Regions from separate parts of the Homo sapiens genome. Here region 2 is linked to region 1. Evidence: fine-mapped expression QTL. Tissue or cell type: testis. Region 1 holds a variant in brackets; the other region holds the start of a gene. All regions are shown on one strand. Distances are from middle to middle.

Region 1 (8,105 bases):
TTCATATTATTGCACTTACTCTTTAATATATAAGGCATTTTACTTTACATAAATAAAGGTTAATGTATAATATCATACAAAGTTATGGTGCCAATTAAGTCAACCATCAAATTCAATGAGATGTGTGGGAAGATGGAAATGAAACCCAGCCTACTTTAATCTTCATGGTATATTCTTGCAACTACGGTTTACTTGTTATAACACATATTTATTTACCCTCATAGCTTATTGTGAATGACTGACCAGTTAAAAAAAAAGAAACAATGACAGTTTTAGTAGGACAATACCATTAGTGTTCACTTCAGAAAGTGTGGGAATTTATTAGGCTAATTAGAAATACTAGTCATGCCTTGAACACTGAAGACAAATAAATAGCTTTCTATCTATCTTAGGGTCAAAGACAGTTTAGCTTTTGCTTCTTCCCTTAAATTTCAACTGTTTGTTGGCGAGGGAAACCTTCTGGCAAGATGTAGTAGCAGTGGCTGATGACTTTAGCATAGTGTATGTGGTAAGCCAGAGGTCTACCCTTGTACTCCAGATATGAGGATTAAAAAGACTTGCGGAAGGAGACCATTCCATTTGCTCCACATTGCACAAGAAATTCCTGTCTGTTCACATAGGGCTGTGCGTTTATTAATTAATTATTATTAGGCACAGCTGTAAGAGTGGAGGCGAAAAGCAGTTTTCAGTGTTGTTGACTTGAAATAGTCTTTGATTTAGGCAAGAAAGCAGAAACCACAAAACTGACCCCAGAGACTGAAAAACAATCAATCAATATCTATCAATCAAGCATGCACCTTGCACTGACTTCCTACAGTATTCTACCTGTAACTGTAGTGAAAAGTAGAAGTAAAATCAATAAGACCTTTCTAACTAACTCCTGTACCATATTTTCCTTTGTATTGCCAGTTGATGAGAAATCTGGACTCAGACAAGCCAGCTATTTCTCTCTCATCTGAAGGACCTCTCTAGGCCGACTTCAAAGATGTTTAGTGGGATTGGTCATTCAGAAAAATGATGATGTACAAAGCTGATGGCTAAAGCCCCTCCATGAATCTGGGGGTCACAGCCATAGACCCAAGCTGTAGGTTATTTAAAGAAGTATCTCCAACATAAAATCTTAGTGTCATGCACACAGGTATGGCAAATGCACTCTCCACTCATGTTGTCAGGGCTCAACGGGTTGGTTTGTGCCACTGAAGACGACCTGGCTTGTAACTACATTTCTGCTCCTTTACCTTGACTCACCCTGTTTCTCCTCCTCTTTATGACCCGATGAGAGTTTGGAATTATTTACCTAAGAAAATAAGGTACATCATGAGGAGAGAAAAGCCAGCTATGTGACGACGAACGGAATATCCAATCGGAATAGCTACTGGGAAGCAGCTCATGCCACCAGAGGAGGAGTGGCCAGAGTGAGTTTCCCAAGTAGCGTGAGTCACGACAGTCTTCTGTAGGAAAACATTTTTGGCAAAAGGAGGAAATTGCAAAGCGGGAAAACGAAAACAGCAAAAACTTAAGTCACTGCAGTTGTCATTATACTAGGTCAAGAAAAGAGATCCAATACTTAGAATGTTACATTTCTTAAACATGTTGGGAAAGAGGGAAAAAAACCAACCAGTCTCCTAAAAGGATTCCATTAAGCTCCTCTATTTGGATTGTACATACATTGTCTATAAATCCAAGGACACTTAGAAAGATACTTGATTTCTAAAAATTTAGTTTAAATTCATGGTTGGAGTGCATAAAATTCAGAAATGGAAACCCAGTGACTGACTGACTTGTGATATTTTTGTCTGCTCTTGGACTGACCAGTCTTGAATTCAAGCACTTATCAAGACAGGTTCAAAAACTAGTTGTAAGGTGCTTTTAGATGTTGACCTTTCTGCTCCCTCTAAGCAGTGAAGCTCATGGCTATTTAATACAGCTTATCAGAAGTGCTATTCTGTAAAACAGCCTTATGGCTTACACTTTTGAGATAGAAAATGATCAATACTTCATGGTGATCAATAACCTATTGAGTTGAACTTTGCATACGTACATTATACATTACACTCACTAAAAAATACTCTCAATTAATTATTTTGCTTTTTCCTTTTTGGACAATTCCTGAGCTCAGCCTAACAGGTCATAATTCATTTTTTTAAGTAAGTCTTATTCTCTTTTCAGGGTAACATATACAGACCTACATCTCCTCCTTCCATTGAATGTGCCTAAAAGCATTCTGTCATTTACTTACAAAATCATACAAAATGATTGATTGTCCTCTTAGGTGTGACATTTGTGTCCCCCTCAGACTTTTAGTTCCCTGATCACCAGGATTGGGTATGTTGGGAGAGCTGGCAAGAAGGAAGCAAAGGTCTAGCTAAATGTTTGTTTGTTTCAAATAAAGAAGGGTGTGTCACATCTTGTATCCCCATCAGTAAACATAACATAAAGGTAGGGGACAGGCACTGGAACGAAGGAACCCTCCCGGCCTGGGTGACGCAGGTGGAAGGCTTCTGGAGTTAATTTCATTGCTGTTGCACATACAGTTAAGTCAGGCTTCATGTGTAAGCACAAGCTTGGAGATTTTTATAGTCCGTGTCTGTACCAGTGTTGGCCATTTCAACAACCTGTGGTTTAAAGAAGTCACTCTGATTTGCTAAAGAAAGAAGAGAACTGAGAAAATGATTCTTGTTAAAATTCATGAAGAATTCCTATGCTTTCTAATTAATAACTGCACAGGTCCTTCTGGGACAGACTTCATAATATTCCAGGCATCAAAGTGCATGAGCCCAACCAGAGGTTTCCCATTAATAGCAAGAATTTCATCTCCAGCTTCTATTATTCCAGCTTGTTCAGCCGCACCACCTACGAGAATAAACACAGAATAATTAATAGCTTGGCAGTTTCATAGTATTCAAAAATCCTAAGTAAACTAAAAACTTTTAAGTGATAAAAATATCTAAATAATATATTATTGAATAGAGAAATATTTCTTAGAACACAAAAAGCATATATCCATAAAAGTAAACTGGTCTACAGAAAACAGTGCAACTCTAGCCCTCCTGCCGCCCCTCCAAACATAATCTGTAAGATAAAAATAAACTGACAAGGGGAAGATACTCTCTATGTATTTAATCAACAAATGGTTAACATCCAGACTAAAGAGCTACAAGTCAACAAGAATAACACAAAATAAAGTTGGGGTAAGGAAATCAACAGCTGAACTCCAAACAGCCAGTAAACACAGAAAAGCAGGTTCAACTTTTTTTGTTGTTGTTGAGACGGCCTCACACTGTCACCCAGGCTGGAGTGCAGTGGTACAGTTTTGGCTCGCTGCAGCCTCCGCCTCACTGGGCTCAAGCGATCCTCTCACCTCAGCCTTCAGAGTAGCTGCTACCACAGGCATACACCACCATGCACAGCTTTTTTTTTTATATTTTTGGTAGAGATGGGGTCTTGCCATGTTGCCCAGGCTGTCAGCTTCTAATTGTTAACAGATTCTGGCTGATATATGCAAGTTCTGAGAATCAGTGATTATGTGCTCATTAGTGACCATGG[G/A]GACTACTTACTTACAGAGTTTAGCATGTTCACATTATAGCTTTGTCTAGCTTTGTATGAGCTTTGAAAAAAATGCAAGTGTAAACCCTCCATTTACGTTCTCACACATATACTTCTAAAGGTACACCAGCTATGGAGGCATCTTATGGAAAAAAAATGGCATTGAAAGAAAAAGTCCCAAGTGTGAAAAAAATTTTCTCAGAAATTTTGATTAGACCTCAAAAGACTGAGCAGATGTATCGATTTCATCCTAAATTACTGAAAGTCGTTATTGAAATTATTGAAATAAATATTATGTGATAAAAATACAGCTTGGAAGAAATCCAGCCCACACAAGGACAAAAACATTTTCTGTGGTAAATGATAGAGGCAGTTAGTTACATTAGAAGAGAGACCTCACCAATATCAGCCCTGTAGTGGGCCCCAGGAAAATGATTTGGTCCCTAGTCCTTGCTTTTCTTGAGATAGATACATTTTTGGAAGGACCAAAGAACCAATTATATTTGTGTTAACTTAGTACCCAATGTCCTATTCTAGCATATTAACCGAAGGCCTTCAGGTTATGTGAAACAAAAGAATTTTGTGAGTGTTCACCTGGGCTTCAGGACATGGGAGGTTCCAGGCAACCAGAACAGCCTGACGCACACTGAAGGAGCAATCAGACTGGGTTTGGTCTCAAATCTGTGACTTCAGGCAAGTTACAGATTTCTCCAAACTCCAGTTTTCTCATCTGCAAAATGGTGATGATGATATCTGTCTTGTTATCTTACTAGGTTGTTAGAAGGACTGAATGAGATGAAGTAGAGGAAAGTCTTCTAGGACAGGGGTCCTCAACCCTTGGGCCACAGACTGGTGGCAGGAGGGCTGCACAGCAGGTGAGCAGTGGGTGAGTGAGCAAAGCTTCCTCTGTTCACAGCCTCTCACCGTCACTCACACTACCACCTGAGCTCTGCCTCCTGTCAGATCAGCAGCAGCATTAGATTCTCACGTGAGTGTGAACCCTATTGTGAACTGCATATGCGAGGGATCTAGGTTGCATGTTCCTTATGAGAATCTAATGCCTGATGATCTGTCATTGTCTCCCATCACCCCCAGATGGGATGCCTGGTTGCAAGAAAACAAGCTCAGGGCTCCCACAGATTCTACGTGATGGTGAGTTGTATAATTATTTCATTATATATTAAAATGTAATAACAGAAATAAAGTATACAATAAATGTAATGCACCTGAATCATCCTGAAACCATCCCCCACCCAAACCCTCACCATGGAAAAATTGTCTTCCACAAAACCAGTCCCTGGTGCCAAAAAGCTTGGGGACTGCTCCTTTAGGAAACATTCAGTGTTGTACAAAGCAGAGGTTTGCCAGCTTTTGGACTTTTTACACAAGAGAGAAATAAATTCTCTCGTTTAAACCACTGCTATTTTGGATTTCCTATTACATGAGGCCAAACTGAATCTTAACAGATTTGAGCAGGATATGTCTCTCTCTCCATTTACTCATAGATTTTTTAAAATTGTCCTTTAGAAAGCTTTTATGCTTTTTCCCAAAAAGGTCTTGCATAGCTTTTGTTGAACACATTCTTAGGTTCCTTATGCTTACCATGAATTGGTGTCACACAGTGCACAATCTGCATTTGGCTTTTTTTCATTCAACACTGTTTTTGAGCCGGTCCCAGTTAGTATATAGAGAGAGGTGTAATTTATTTTTTCAACTGCTATTTAGCTTTCCTTTAGATGAATATATTTTATTCTGCTACAGATAGAAATTTAAATTGTTTCATAGCTTCCATTTTCGTAAGCACTGCTAAAATTTTCCTTAAAGATTAACCAGTAGATACTTGCACGAGAAAAAAAATGTGTTTTCCTTTCTCCACATCCTTGCCAACACATCATAGTATGAGATTTTTTATTTTTGGCCAACTTGATAGATTAAAAGAATGATTTATAATATTTCTAATTTTCATCCAATACATTTAAGTTTGAGCATCTTCCTGTGTTTCTTGGCCACCTAGGTTTTAACTTCTGTCCATTTGCTATTGCTTTCTTTACCCAAACTTTCTCTCTTGTATTTTTCTTACTGAATTATATAGTTCTTCATATATTCTGGATTGATTGATTGATTGATTGATTGTTTTTTTTTGAGACAAGGTCTCCCTCTGTCACCCAGGCTGGAGTGCTGTGGCACAACCATGGCTCACCACAGCCTCGACCTCCTGGGCTCAAATGATTCTCCCACCTCAGCTCCTGAGTAGCTGGGACTATAGGTGCGTGCCGCCACACCCGAGTAATTTCTGTATTTTTTGTAGAGGTGGAGTCTCGTCATGTGGCCCAGACCGGTCTTGAACTCCTGGGCTCAAGTGATCTGCCCACCTTGGTCTCCAAAGTGCTGGGATTACAGGTGTGAGCCACGGTACCCTGCCTATTCTGGATATCAACCCTTTGTTTATTAAATATATTGTAAATATCTTCTAATCACTTACTTTTGAATTTGCTTATAAATTTTGCCATATAATGAACATTTTATATGTTTTTTTTTTTTTTTTTTTTTTTTTTTTTTAGATGGAGCCTTCTCTGACCCCAGGCTGGAGTGCAGTGGTGTGGTCCTGGCTCACTGCAACCTCCGCCTCCTGGGTTCAAGTGACTCTCCTGCCTCAGCCTCCTGAGTAGCTGGGATTACAGGCATGCACCACAATGCCCAGCTAACATATTTTTAGTAGAGACGGGGTTTCACCATGTTGGCCAGGCTGGTCTCTAACTCCTGACCTCAGGTGGTCCACCCACCTTGGGCTGCTTAGGAGGCTGAGACACCAGATTCACTTGAACCTGGGAGGCAGAGATTGCAGTGAGCAGAGATTGTGACACTGCACTCCAGCCTGGGTGACAGAGCTAGACCCTGTTAAAAAAAAAAAAATTCTTTATTATTCAAATGCTTGTTCTGTAATAACCTTACTCAAAGAAATCAGTCTTGCTATATTGTTTTCTAATGCTTGAGCTTAAAGACACAGGAAAACAAAATGAACAGAAAACCTGTACTCATGAAATTTGTAAATATGAAATACGAGATAAGGTGAATCCTGACCTCAAGTGATTCGCCTGCCTTAGCCTCCCAAAGTGCCGGGATTACAAGCATGAGCCACCATGCCCGGCCAGATAATGACATCTTTAGTCTCACTAGTTTCCAAAGGTGGGATCTGCCGTATCATACTCAGAAATACTTGAATGGCTTTCCCCAAGAACAAAACCACAGGCTTGCACACGAGAGCATCTAAAGCGCTAGTCTGTGGGACTGACAATTTTCTTCTTCTCTATCCATTTCCATAGCAGTTTTCACAGATTTGTGGCCAGATGCTAGAGACAAAGGCTGAGAAGTTGTCCAGGACGTCATATTCTTGCTTTGCTGGAGGCAGATCTGAAGGATGTCATCTCTCCTGTGGCTTCTTCTAGTGTGGGGTCCCGAAGCCTGGCTTCCCCAGCCGATGTGCTGCTTTAGTCAGCGTCTGCCCTGGTCCTTCGGTTCGCAGGCTCACACGCTTTTTTGGGTTGTGTCCCTTTGGACTGCAGAGGCTACGTGTCCTGTGACCAACCACGAAGGCGGCCACTCCCGCTCCCCTCAGGAGTGTCTTAAAATACCTCCATTTTAGCTACCCTATTGAATGACAGGTTAGCTGGGTGCTGGGTTTTCAGGTGATGGACATTTTCCCTCAGTCCTCTGAAGGTGTTGCTGGCTTCAGGCATTGATGCCGCCACTCTGATTGTTGTATGCAGTGAGCAAACTAGAATTTTCTCTTGGCTTTCTAGATTTTCTTCTTTATATTCTGAAACTTTATTATATCAAGGTTTGAATTTTATTTTTTTTGGAGACAGGGTCCTACTCTGTCATCCAGGCTGGAGTGCAATGGTGCAGTCCTGCTCACTGCAGCCTCCAAGTCCAGGGCTGAAGCGATCCTTCTGCCTCAGCCTCCTAAGTAGCTGGGATCACAGGTGTGCACCACTCTGCCTAACAAGGCTTGTTTTTTGTTTGTTTGTTTGTTTTAAATAAATACATTCAGATTGTTTTGCCCCTTGATGAGTTTTTCAGTCTGCATAGTCCTGTCATTTTTTCACTTCTGGAAAATTCTTAGTCATGATTTCTGCAAATATTTCCTCTCATTCTGTTTTTTCCTTCTGGAACTCTTTCATTACCTTTTTGTAGTCATCTCTTTATTTCCCTATACTGCATTTTTTAATGGTTTCTTCTGTTCTGTTTTTACAAATTCTATCTATCTTCACATGGATTTAGTCTATTTTTTACTTTTACTCATTAATTTAAAAATACATTTAACTCCATTTTCACTAATGAGGGTGTATGTGCATTTAGTTTTTACTTTTAAAGAAGCAGGGTCTTGCTCTGCTGTTGAGGCTGGTATTGAACTCCTGGGGCTCAAGCAGTGCAAGGAGCTGAGACTACAGGCATGCGCTACCACACCCAGCTTGCATTTTGTTTTTTTTACATATTTGCTTGCTCCTTCTGAATACCCTCTTCGGTCCTGTTTCATGGGTAACATTCCTGCCTCTGTC
Region 2 (8,105 bases), 470 kb after region 1:
TTGCTCACCTCTTCCAGCCCAAACACCCCTGATCTAGCTTCTCTACTCTCTCCCACATCTCTTTTGTTTACCAAACATGCCTGGGAGGGAGAATGGAGGGACTCTCATGAATAAACCCTCCTTCAATGCTACAACCTCCTCAAAATACTGTGGATTATTTTCAAACAGCACACTTCTGGATCCAGTGTCTATACCTGCAGTTTCACTGTCTTGGCAATCATTGTCTCCTTCTTCCCTTGCAGCCTGGCTTCATGAACACCCCTTGCAGACACTGTTCTATCAGTGGCCTTTTCCTATCATCCTTCTGGGGATGGGCGTCTCTGAGACATCCCTGCCTCTCCACTTGTCTGCTAACCTCTCTCATGGGCTTGTCTGCATAGCTCTTCCTGTCCTTGAAACTCAACTCTGACCTCAGCATCCTCCCTGGTGCTGCGGGGATGTGTCTGAGGGCAGAAGAAAGAAGCTGAAAACTTGAGTCTCTAAGTCTGTCTTCTTAAAGAGATTCAGCCTCTCTTTGGATTTGCTCCTGACCTTTTGTGGGTTCATCTTTGGAATTTGTCCCCTTGTGGATGGTGCAGTAGGAGAGACCTTCCAACAGAGATGCCCCCACCACCATGGTCCGAGTCACTTAGGCCCACATGATCAAAGGCAAGGGGGTATCCACAGCTCTGTGTTATCTTGTTCAGCTCACCAGGCCTGGAGCCTCTGGGAGAGGGTTTCCACAACACCCTACAGTATGATCAGCCGGGGGTAGTGGGGTCTGGGGTGTTCCCTCTGCCTCTTTTCCTGTCTAACCTGAGGAAGTTGATTAGCAACTGTTCCAGGCCTTATCTGGGTATGAAAAAAATAAGGCCCTAAAGAAACACACCCAGGGCAGCATGGTGAGTGTGCTAAAGGGTTGTGTAGGAGCAGAACGAGGGGCCAGGTTGGGCGCAGTGACTCATGCCTCTAATTCCAGCACGTTGGGAGACCAAGACACCAGGATCACTTGAGCCCAGGAGTTCGAGACCAGCATAAGCAACATGGTGAAACCCATCTCCACAAAAAACACAAAAATTATCTGGTTGTGGTAACACACACCTGTGATCCCAGTTACTCAGGAGGCTGAGGTGGGAGGATTGCTTGAGTCTGGGCAACAATGAGACCCAGTCTCAAAAAAAAAAAATATCTCACACATCTCCCTACTATCTGGAGAACTAAGTTCCTCTGAGTCCTTAGTTCCTCTGAGTCCTTAGTTCCTCTGAGTCCTTAGCACTGAGTCCTAACTCAGGATCAACCTCTCGACTTCTACCTAAGAGCTCCTCCACAAAGCCTTTCAGATCCTCTCTGGCAAAAGTGACTTCTTTTTCCTCCATACTCCCAAAATGTTTTATTTGGACCACTCTTCAGGTACTTTACTCACTTAATTATCTCTTCACTCCTTCATCCAATAAACACATGGCGTCTACTACATGCAGCATGTGCACTGGTCTGCACCATAGTGCTTAGCAGGCTTCTCTCCCTTCTCCTGCTGGACAGAAACTGACAAACTGACAGCAGCGAGGGAGCATCTTTCATCTAAGCATATCCTGGAACCTCGAAGCCTCCTCAGCCTCCAGCACAGCAAACCACAGGTATTCCAAAAATAAAATGATTGAAATGAACAGAGAAATTATCATAAGTTTCCTTAAATAGTAAACTGCCATAAAGTACATGCAAAATCAATTTCAGCGATAGATTTAAAGTATAATTCAATATTTTTCCAGGAGCATATTAACTATGTCAAGGTAGGTACATTTATATACTTTACATGGTTCTGATTTTTCCTCTCCTAGCACCTGCCACCCCCCTACTCCTACACCTAACCCCCGCAACACACACACTCACTCACACAACTAGGTGGTTATTATAGGAGCAGAAGCTCTGGGCCCATCCTAATGGAAGAAGGAATTCATGAAGCCAGAACCACCACCTACAGCCAGGGGTGTGTTCTGAGACATTCTCTTCTGCCCCCACAAGCAGCACTCCCACTTCACACCTGCCAACCTGTACCTATCTGGCCACCACCCAGAAGTCACAACCCACAAAAGCTGGCCCAGTAGAGATGCCAGGCCCCTAAAGCCCTCCAGTGTTCAGAGACCCCACTGGAGAACAGGCCCTGAAGGTCCAGGGGGTCTCTCTGCAAGGACAGATCAGGGCATCACTTACTGCAGCCACTCAGCAACCACTTCCAGTAGTTTCATTGCGATTTGTCAAGGCAAACATATCCACCTACCCTACCTTTGGTGGAGGCAAGAGGTTAGGCCAGCTGCAGGGGACAGACTCAGACTCAGCTCCATCCCCCAACACTGCCCAACGGCCAGTCCCAGGGCAGGTCTGGAGCTCTGGAATGCCCTCGTGCCTGCCATTCCAGTCTCTGCGACCAGCCCATGCCAGACCTTGTCCTCTTCCCACTCCAGTGTCCCTTATCAAGGTCTCTGCATAGATTTGGGCTGCCGAGGACAGCTTCTGGCAAACTCCTGCCAGGGGTCCTGGACCCTCCTGCTGCTGAATTCAGCCTTGCGCTTTAATGGATTTTCCAAATAGCGGGGACCACAGGCAGCTCAAAGACTTAAAACACAAACGCAAACCCGAGGGAGGGAGAGAGGAACAGAGGGAGGGAGAAACCAGATTTTAGGAGAAACTCGACTTCAGAGAGAGAGCAGGATTTCCCTATCACTATGTTCCCCATCTCCCCGGCAGACGCCAATAACCGGCCCTAAGATGCCCTTGATCTTTGCGCGCCCCCTGCATTCCCTCGCCCCGCGTCTAACGTCTCATCTGGGCAAAGAGGCGGGGGTTGAGAGATGAAACAAGCCCGAGGGAGGATGGTCCCCAAGACATTACCTGAGGCCGGAGTACCTGAGTACCTCCACTCCTGTCGGAGGAAGGGACCAGAAGACGGCCCAGGGATGGGGACCCGGGATGCGCGCCCGAGCAGGAGGTCCCGGCCCTGTCTTGAGTACCCCCGGCAGTGCGTCTCCGGTTGTCCCGCTGTCTCGGTCCCGCTCTGTCTAGCCCCCTCCCCTGGGCTGCGCCCTCCCCGTCCCCGGCCGGATGCTAGAGGAGTTTGCGCCGCCCAACGTGGGACCCCGGTTCGGCGTCCTCACTCCCCGCCCTGCCAGGGCTGGGATTCCCGCACCCGGATTTGTAGCTAAACTTTCCTGGGCACACACGGTCTCGGGGGTGCCGGGCCTCCCCCATCCCCTGCCCACCCGGAGCCGCGCGTCCCGGCTGCAGCGGGACGGTCGCTTCACCTGCTCGCGGCTTGGCCGAGGCTCCCGCGGCTTCCTCGCGCGTCCAGACCCAGGCGCCGCCCGGCGGGTCCCCGCGCAGCTGCCGCCACCGCGGCCACCACCGGTGCCGCCGCCGCGCCTGCCCCGAGCTGCAGAGCCGCGGTTCGCCGGCAGCCGCGGGAGGCGCAATCCCGGTGCCTTGGGTTCGGCCTGCGGCTCCTCGGCTGCCTGCAGCCGCCGCCCCGCCGCGTCCCGCTGCCCGGGGCCGGCACGCACCGGCGCTGGGGTCCGCTCCTCGCCTCGCTGCGCAGGGGATCCGCCGAGCCTCCAGGATGGGCGGGGATTCCCTCCCCCTGGTTGATTCGAGGGGCGGGAACTCCCTTCCCCGAGTGACAGGGACGGGGGGCGGGGATTCCCCTGCAGGAATAACAAGGTGGGCGGGGATTTCCCCGAGCGAGCCCCGCCGCGGGCAAGGCGTCTCTCTGGGTGAGCCAGGAGTCCTGGTGCGCCCGCTTCAGAAACCTGGGGATCGTGGGAGGAAGGCATCCAGGGAGATGGCTGCTCCGAATCTCCATACAGGCGGGGCTTAGGGCGCCATCTAGGTGGAACAGAGCGAGCTAGGGGACGTGAAGTTGCCTCTGCATAGCACTTTACACAGCAAAGAGAAAAATGTCAGTTACCTTATCAAAGAATGGGGCGGAGGGGCCACAGGAGATGGGGGAAGAGCTAACCACTCACCCCAAGCTACCCTTAGCCTCTGGTCCTTGGGATACCAAAGGTAATTTAGCACTGGTACGAGGATTTCGGGGAGAGGGGACCTCTTGGCACCTCAGAGCTGCTTAATCCCCCAGTTAAGCCCCTGGGGGGGAATCCCATGGCCCTGGGGTGGTGGTTTTGGTCCCATGAGCACTAGCCACGAGCTCCTGCCGAGTGGACTGTGAGAGCTAATGCCAGCCGCCCTTGGCTCCCGTCCAGGTCACTCGAGGAACCGAGCCTCAGGCTTTTGGGATCCTTCATTCCGGTGGATTTTCAGGAAGGCCTTCAAATATTTTTGGTTCTTTTTTTGTCATCCTTGTCATTCTGCCTACCAAAGGGAGAGGATGATAAGAACATAATAGGAAGACTGCACAGCTCTGCAAATTAAGCTCTCTTAAGAGGAAAAAGCTGGTCTTTTTCAAGTGCTGGCAGATAAGAGTAAAAACATATGAAAAATTGCAAAACCTGGGATAATGAATAGTTGAATAATGCTTTTGACATTTTCTACAGAACAGTAATTGGAAATCTTTGCTTTCGGGGGGATGGGGATGGGACAGGGCAGGCCCCAGCTGCAGTTCTGCCCAGCAAGGCAATAAACTCTGGCCTCTCCGAAAAGCAGGCAGACATAAATCACCTGCGCAGACCGGACAGCGCTGTCCCACCACACCAGAGACCAGAGTGGGCCCAAGGCATTTGGAGGTGGTATTGTCCTCAGGGGCTGGGGTGGAGAAGTTCTTGATTTCAGCTGTTCTTCAGCTTTTATAATTACCAGGCCATTGAGATCAATGCTTGCACAAATCCAAGCATCGTATATGACAAGCTGGGCACTCAGGCACTCAGAGCTTCTCTTCCTATGTGTAAATAGAGAAAACACCTACCATGCAGGATTGCTGGAACTAGCAGTAACACAGCTATTCAGCACAGCACTTAGGAGGTGCTCAATGAAATGGTAACCATTATCAATGAAAGGTATCATTGGGACACTACAAAAAAATCCTTCTAGAAGGATCAAACAGGGCTGGTGCTTTCTGTTTTTTCCACAATCCCAGGCCCATCTTCCACCACTCTGTCCCGTGTTTTCTCAGCCTCTGTACCCAGCACATACCTTGGGCCTACCTCCCTCAGCACCAATGAAAAGTTTGCTGAATCAATGAATATGCAAATAAATGTATCACTCAAACTGTAGTCACTGCTATTTCTTATCCACTCCATCCCCAACTCTTTCATTCCAGCCATGTACTCCTAATCTGTAAATTCTGTTTCCTCTGCCAGAGTGACATTCTCACTCTCCTGTGTCTGCTGAAATCCCAAGGAGGTAAATGTCATCTCTACTGGAAAGGCTTCTCTGATCATCAGAACAAACATCACGTTTCCTCTGCCTTGTTAATTGCTGCAATGGTAGCACTTTATGCAAATTGCTCATCTAACCCTTGTCAGGTGTATTATGTTGTAGGAATTATGGCGTTTTGTCTCACATATTTCTAGCTTGTGAGTTCTTGGAGGTAAGAGAACTTAAAGCTTATTGTTTGTGTTCCCAAAGCCTAGGGTGGCATGGTGTCCGACCCAATAGCCACTCAATAAATATTTGCTGAATTAAAATGAATTGTTAGGTATATACATGTATGTTATATGTGGCATATATTATGTATAAATACAATATATACAGATGTATTTTATAATCTGTCTCCTTCAGACATGGCCCTGCTGACCTGCTTTAAATACTTCGTTTCAATCACTTTTCAGCTGATATTTTCCAGATATTTTTGGCAAGTTCTTATCTGCTAATAATAGCTCAATTCACAGAGGTCAATCAAATGCATGGAAATTTTGTTTTGCCCTTGCAGTCTTGTCAATTTGGAAAGCTGACAACTGAGGGCATTTATTTTCCAATGTTTGAAGATCAAAATGTAAATCCTTTTTGCCCCCTTGTTAAACATTTAGTCACAGATTAGTATTTCTATCAAAGTTGCCATTTTAATTTAGTGCTCATAATATATGTGATGTGGAGGAGGAGGAGGCTGTATATAGAATATCTAAGACTTCAGAGCAAAGGAAGATTAAAATGATAAACAAAGAAAAAATGTGTGATCCCAAGCTATATCAGTGACAGAATGTAGCGTGGTTTAGGTGAGTCCAAGTAGATTCTCATGGATTGCAGTGCCATGTGGTTTACTTCTGAGCTTTCTCCCTCTATGAAGAAAAATCTACAGACCAGGCAGCTGAAACTAAAACTGGAGGTTTGCTTACCAACTCTTGAAAAGACTGCTTTCCATCTTTCCGCCTCAGCTGCTCTTCCAAGTAAATTTCAAGGGAGGAGAAGTAGCCTTAGTCAACAACTGGCTCAATTCCCTTTCTCCTCCCAGCCTCTGTGGGTTCATTTTATCTCCAAAACAGATTCTAGCTTCCTGTTTACCTAGCGAATTACCCTTTTTTCTTTCTTCCACAAATTCCTGGCCACTAACTCTTCCATTCATGACCTCACGCTAGAACGAGCCATCTCCTGGCCAAGAAAGGGGCTTAAAAAGAACAAATGAGGCCAAGTGCCCTGGCTCATGCCTGTAATCCCAGCACTTTGGAAGGCCGAGAGGGGCGGATCACTTGAGGTCAGGAGTTCGAGACCAGCCTGGCCAACAGGGTGAAACCCAGCTTCTGCTAAAAATGCAAAAGTTAGCTGGGCATGATAGCGGGCGCCTGTAATCCCAGCTACTGGGGAGGCTGAGGCAGGAGAATTGCTTGAGCCTGGGAGGTGAAGTTTGCAGTAAGCCAAGATCACGCCACTGTACTCCTCTCTGGGAGTCAGAGCAAGACTCCGTCTCAAAGAAAAAGAACAAATGAGTGACGATGGTAGTAAAACATTAAGTCAGTGGATCTCAGTCTGGACTACACTTAAGGATTCCCAGAAGTTTGAAAATTTAAAAAACTCCAGACTCACCCCCTGAGATCACTATATACTTGGTCTTTGGGGAGCCCCTGGATGCCCCTTAACCAGAACCCCAGTGATTGTAATTTGGGTGGCCCACACAGGATAACTTGGAGAAACACTGAAGTAGAGTGACATGACAGCTGAGAGGGTGCCCAAGGTCACATTCCAGTACTTGGTCATAGTACTGTAGAGATAAGACTTTATTTTAAACATTGATAAAAATGTTGTAATATTTATCCCGTCTCAGATGAAATATTTTATTTAGCCAAAACACAAAAAAGGACCTGCATTTGATGCATACTGGTTTTTTTCTTTTTCTTTCTTTCTTTCTTTTTTTTTTTTTTTGAGATGAAGTGTCGCTCTTTTTGCCCAGGCTGGAGTGCAATGGCGCGATCTTGGCTCCCTGCAACCTCTGCCTCCTGGGTTCAAGTGATTCTCCTGCCTCAGCCTCCTGAGTACTTGGGATTACAGGTGCCCACCACCACCCCCAGCTAATTTTTGTATTTTTAGTAGAGACAGGGTTCCACCATGTTGGCCAGGCTGGTCTCAAACTCCTGACCTCAGGTGATCCGCCTGCCTCGGCCTCCCAAAGTGCTGGGATTACAGGCGTGAGCCACTGCACCCAGCCCATACTGTCTTAAAATATATATTTAGGGGAAAGGTTTAAGTAAGCACTTTTCATCCACGTACATTGAAAATGAGTTTCACTGTATCCATGAGCGTGACGTTGGATTTTATGCAAATGTGTTTTATTGTTTCCAGTGTGGTCTAATAATACTGCACGTGAAGAATTTGTAATTTTCTCCTGGGCTTCCCCTTACAAGCCAACCCATTATTTTATATCTTTGTCTCTCAGCCTTCCATTTGTACTATTGAAGCATTGGTTGCCACGGTAATTTTTTTATACAATTTTTGGCAGAAAAAACTGAATTACAAACTAGTAACTACAGACCACGTATGACTTTCACAATTTATATAGATGATTCAATCATTTTGCAATAGGGTAGAGTGTAGTGTTTATCCAAGTAGATTCTTTTGGACTGTGGTGGGATTTGATTTACCTTTGAGTTTACTTGCTTAACACACATTAAGACACCAGCAAGACAGGCCTGGCGTGGTGGCTCACGCCTGTAATCCCAGCACTTTGAGAGGCCGAGCTGAGTGGATCACCT

Which allele goes with the higher level. Alleles are on the strand shown, and positions count from the first base shown. SD is a standard deviation of normalised expression in the study named.
In carriers of allele A in region 1, the expression in testis of the gene that starts at base 3,582 in region 2 tends to be higher than with G alone (moderate effect, 0.43 SD a copy in GTEx).

What was found. PIP is the estimated chance that this variant, and not a neighbour inherited with it, causes the effect.
Region 2: it holds the start of PDZD2, and the variant in region 1 is fine-mapped to the expression of PDZD2 in testis (GTEx, PIP above 0.99).

The regions. Positions count from the first base shown.
Region 1 is chr5:32,102,717-32,110,821 of GRCh38, reverse strand. It overlaps PDZD2 (PDZ domain containing 2), which reads right to left. Exons shown (of 25, transcript NM_178140.4): 25 at 1-2,853. The coding sequence ends at 2,687. LOC105374711 (a long non-coding RNA gene) reads left to right here and starts at 2,631. Exons shown (of 4, transcript XR_007058716.1): 1 at 2,631-4,534; 2 at 4,642-4,698; 3 at 6,870-8,105. The variant G/A (reference allele first, on the strand shown) is at 3,547.
Region 2 is chr5:31,634,608-31,642,712 of GRCh38, reverse strand. PDZD2 (PDZ domain containing 2) reads right to left here and starts at 3,582. Exons shown (of 25, transcript NM_178140.4): 1 at 3,276-3,582. RefSeq lists a silencer at 3,279-3,628.